Linked DNA regions of Homo sapiens: region 2 is linked to region 1. Evidence: fine-mapped expression QTL. Tissue or cell type: neutrophils. Region 1 holds a variant in brackets; the other region holds the start of a gene. All regions are shown on one strand. Distances are between the middles of the regions.

What was found. PIP is the estimated chance that this variant, and not a neighbour inherited with it, causes the effect.
Region 2: it holds the start of IL15, and the variant in region 1 is fine-mapped to the expression of IL15 in neutrophils (BLUEPRINT, PIP 0.95).

The regions. Positions count from the first base shown.
Region 1 is chr4:141,403,607-141,406,367 of GRCh38, forward strand. No RefSeq gene overlaps it. Among named protein-coding and RNA genes, the nearest start is that of LINC02432, 72 kb to the left of the region's middle. The variant T/G (reference allele first, on the strand shown) is at 1,590.
Region 2 is chr4:141,635,502-141,638,001 of GRCh38, forward strand. It overlaps IL15 (interleukin 15), which reads left to right and starts at 1,082. Exons shown (of 8, transcript NM_000585.5): 1 at 1,082-1,247. RefSeq lists an enhancer at 995-1,084.

The DNA of each region.
Region 1 (2,761 bases):
GTGTGACCAGATGATTGTGTGAATTGTTTACATGTTATTTTGTATCATTCCACAGCACTTCTATGAGAGACTATTATGCTGGTGAGGAATCTGAAGTCTGACCAAAGGTCTTATAGCTTATAAATGGAGGTGCCCAATTTGCAGCCAGGCCTATTGAATTAAACTTAGGTGATCTTTCCAGAGCATCATGCTTGGATTGTTAATTTGTCTCTGATACTTGGTCTTTCAGGCTTGTTTCTGTCAACTTACCTACTGACCCTCTAATGAGAATGATCCTCATTCTTATTCTCTGGGCATACTACAATTGGATTGTATACCACATTTTGTCCTCTAATATCTGTCTGCCCTTCAAGACTGGATTTAGCTTCCTGCTAAAGTCCGTCACACTGCCATCAGAATCTGCTGTGCACTGGCAGCCCTCCTCCTGCAGCTGCCCACGTTCTACAGCACACTACATTTGCAATTTGTACAGCATTTGGAAACCTTTTCTCTCAGATCCAGTGTTGAATGTCTTTGGCAACATACCTGTCTATATAATTTTAATTAATGTGCACTTTTAAAAGCTACCTCAAGGTAGCATTTACCACAGGTTTGAAATTAGAAATAATGTCACGTTTAAATAAAAGCAAAAGAAACTAAAACACATTTAAAAAATTGAATTTAACTTTCTAATAGAACATGGGTCAGTTGCTATACACATTTTTATTATAGGGAATATTTTGGTATTTTCAGCCATATAAATTTATATTAACTTTATGCTTTAGTCTTGTAAAATGGTCAGGAGCAGGAATATGGAGAGGTAGGAGGAGAGTAGATGGCATTGAAAACACAGGCATTATCTGTGAAAATATTGAAGCTATAAACATTTCTTGGAAGCTGCCTGGAAATCTGAACAGGAAAGACTCATATTGTATTTTAAAAATTCTGTTCCTTTTCTAAAATCAACTACTAACTTTTCAAACACACATAGAAAGCAGATTATCCTGTGACACTTTACATTGAAGAAAAACAAAATATTTTCAAAGATGCCAAACCAATAATTTAAAATAAGATATTGAATAGAATTTAAACAAGATTAAAATTAAGAAAAAATATGTTTTAAACAGAAAAGGGTGAAAGAAATCCACTTATAAAGGCAACTGTTGATTTAAAATTATTAGAACTAAGTATTTGTCCATTGCTTTACAAATTGCAACTGGAGATTGAAGGGTTTTTTTTAATGGAAATATTTTTCCAACTTGGAGAGATTGCAACAGTTGCTTTATGGTTATGAACTGCCAAATAGATCCTGTAAATGGGATCCAGTTAGTTCAGAGGAAGTTCAAAAAATCTCTAGAAATTACAAACACCAACAGAAAAATAGAGATTTGTCCTTTTATACAAGTGACAGAAAGCAACAAGAATGGTGCTCACATGTTAGTGTTTTGATGTGCATCTAGCTTTTATTTAAGCTCATTGCACTTCTTCAACACTGCTGAACTTCCAAATATCATAACCTCTGGCAGAGTGGCAGTTGCTTCTTATTGAAAACTTTCTCAGCATGGATGCAATACATTGTTGGTCTATAATGAAGGTGATCCAGAAATATA[T/G]TGGCTGTCAAAGTTGCATCACTGGCTTGCTTTTTTTTTTTTTTTAATGCTGGAAGATAAAGTGGCTACCTCTGAGACAAGTTTTTCAAAACTCCATTTTCCACCAGTTCTGTTGCAATCTCTAGGTGTTATAATCAAGAAATTAAAAATGCTTAATCACTGAAAATTGATCAATTATTGGTTTGCTTCCACTTCTACCCAGGTCACGTAAAACATGCATTCGGACCACAGATTTTCAGAGAAGTGTAGCTCATAAAAATTATTGAAGCTTGTGAAGAATGGATGTGATCATCTAAATTACTTAAAACAACTAAAAGGAAAACTCAAATACATTAATGATTTTTATCTTCACATGAATAAGAAAAGTTTTTTTAAGTCCATGTTGATAGAAAATTGTATTCAAGTCATTAAAAGAGACATGAGTGCCCAATATTCCTCTCAAAAAGAAAATGTTGAACCACAAGAGGTTGTAGCTTTTGGAATGAAGCTAAATGTGACCAGAATTTTTTTTTTTTTTTTTTTTTTGAGATGGAGTCTTGCTCTATCGCCCGGGCTGGAATGCAATGGCACGATCTTGGCTCACTGCAACCTCCACTTCCTGGGTTCCAGCAATTCTTGCCTCAGCCTCCCAAGTAGCACTGGCTAATTTTTGTATTTTTAGTAGAGACAGGGTTTCACCACGTTGGCCACCACGAACTTCTGACCTCAGGTGATCCACCCGCCTTGGCCTCCCAAAGTGCTGGGATTACAGGCATGAGCCACCGTGCCCAGCCGATGACCAGAAATTTATAAAATCATCAGGTAGGCCAAAGGAGATGAAGAATGTAAAGTCAGAGACTTTTTTAAATATTAAGGATTTTCTTCCTGAAGTAATGCTCAAAATGTCCATTACCTAAGTCTTCAGTTGTAATGCATCTACATTTAAGTATTAATTAATTAATTAAGTATACAGCAAAGAGCTCAGCTGGCTCAAACTGGACATCTCTGGTATCAAAATATGACTTCCTTGATTTGTATGGTAGGCCTAAACACTGATTCTCAACCAAGAGATTGTGCTACCTTAGGGGACTTTTGGCAAAAATATCTGGACTCACTTTCAGATATCACCACTTGGGGTAGGAGGGGGTGTGCTTGTGGCATCCAGTGGGTAGAAAAGGTGCTGCTAAATATCC
Region 2 (2,500 bases), 230 kb after region 1:
ATCTAGAGTTTGATGTAATTCTCATCAAAAAGTCCATCAGTAATTATTTCAAATATAAAACTGATATCAAAAAATTGAGTTAATGAAAATAAACTCAAATTTTTCATAAAAATATGAAATTATATTATACGGAACTTTATGTACATGGAAAGTGAATAATTTCTATTATTTTTCTATTTGATATTTATCATATTTATGTAATTAAAAACATAATTAAATTTTAAACTAAATTAAACTGCGCTCCAGGAAGACATCATTTTCTCTGAACCATGACTCTGAAAATTTGGAAAGCACCGTACAAGAGGGATTTTCAGTGATTCACAAGAGTGCAAGATTCTGCAAAGTACTTTCAAAACTAAGCGTGAGATCTTTGCTACTGCCTTTATGGCATGCAAATCACTCAGCCTCAACTCAGTTCCTTCCTCCAATGTAAAAATACTACAAGAACAACATCTCACGCTTCCATCAAATGGGACCATGTGTGATATTTTACACTGGACTACACAATAGGCTGGAAAAGTGATCCGCAGAGAGGCTCATTGCTCTAAGTTCACTCCCTGTACCAACTGTCTTGCACAAAGCTGCCACCCGGGTGTCTTCTTCCAACATTTCCCCTAGTTGGACTTCAAAGTTTCCTTCTTGCAGCCTGTGCGGGGACCAAGAGGCCGGTCTAGAGTAGCCGCCCAGCATCCAGATCCGACATCCTTTTCCCTTTCCTCAGGAAGACTTGGATGCGCGCCAGCCCAGCCCGGGTCTCCAGGTTCAGCTGCGGAAGCTTCCCACATGGTGCCCGTCGCTTGGGATGCGGCTATCCTTGTGCCTTCTCTGCAGGTGTCCCGGCAGGTAGAGGAGGAGACCGGTGGCTGGTGTTCCTGCAGGGCGGGGCTGGGGCTCCTCGATGTCCTTGCGCTTGCCCTGCAAGTTCTGCGCCCCAGGCCCCGGCAGGGACGGAAACAGGCCGGGAAGCAGTGACACCTGGGGCAGTCAGTCATCCAGGAGCCGCCGCCACCCGCCCCACCCCCAGTCTCCGCGGGAGGTGTTTGTCTTCGCCTATGCTCCCGGCTCTTTCTCTTTCACTTTTCTTTTCGCCAGGGGTTGGGACTCCGGGTGGCAGGCGCCCGGGGGAATCCCAGCTGACTCGCTCACTGCCTTCGAAGTCCGGCGCCCCCCGGGAGGGAACTGGGTGGCCGCACCCTCCCGGCTGCGGTGGCTGTCGCCCCCCACCCTGCAGCCAGGACTCGATGGAGGTACAGAGCTCGGCTTCTTTGCCTTGGGAGGGGAGTGGTGGTGGTTGAAAGGGCGATGGAATTTTCCCCGAAAGCCTACGCCCAGGGCCCCTCCCAGCTCCAGCGTTACCCTCCGGTCTATCCTACTGGCCGAGCTGCCCCGCCTTCTCATGGGGAAAACTTAGCCGCAACTTCAATTTTTGGTTTTTCCTTTAATGACACTTCTGAGGCTCTCCTAGCCATCCTCCCGCTTCCGGAGGAGCGCAGATCGCAGGTCCCTTTGCCCCTGGCGTGCGACTCCCTACTGCGCTGCGCTCTTACGGCGTTCCAGGCTGCTGGCTAGCGCAAGGCGGGCCGGGCACCCCGCGCTCCGCTGGGAGGGTGAGGGACGCGCGTCTGGCGGCCCCAGCCAAGCTGCGGGTTTCTGAGAAGACGCTGTCCCGCAGCCCTGAGGGCTGAGTTCTGCACCCAGTCAAGCTCAGGAAGGCCAAGAAAAGGTACCGCAGCTCCCCACTTCCTAACTGCTCCCGTCCCAAACTCATTGTGGGCCGGTGCAGATGTCTGTGCGTGCGCGTCTATCCCTACCTTTGCAAAATCAAATTATCGCCCTCTTCTTTGCTTGCACACGTCTTCTGGGAGAGAAATTTGCAGGAATGGTCAGTGCTTGGCAGTCAGGCCTGGGTCTGTATTGGTTCCAACTCTGCGCCAGCCAGTTATCTCTTAGAGAAGCGATAGTGTATCTAGAATGTCGAAGGAACTTGGAAAAAATACGAGCGAATTTCACTGAAATAAAATCATTATTCAAGGTGGCTTTTAAATGAAAATCCAGCCAATTTTTTCAAGTGTTATTAAGACCGCATGTAGCAAGGGTATATAGTTCATTTGACTTTATGTAATTCCATGCATTAAAAACTATGTTGACTTCAAAGTATGTCTAAACCAAACTAATTCTTAAATGATGCTTACAACAGATTCTTAAATAGGATGAGTCAGCAATTTCAAAACTGGAAGTAAAGTGGTGGTCACCAGCTAGTTTCCATTATATATTTTTAAACTACTATCTAATATTATGATACTGGTGGTGGCCAACTAAGTGGACGTCATCCTTATCTTGTCAGTGTGGTGAAAGAGGCCATATTAGCTAGGCTGAATTTTTGCTCAGGTATTACAGAATAAACTGGTGATTATGCATCCTGCCATGTAGAGGTTATAAGGTGAACCATTCTACTGAAAGCATCAAGATACAATACACTTTTGGAAGGCCGAGGCGAGAG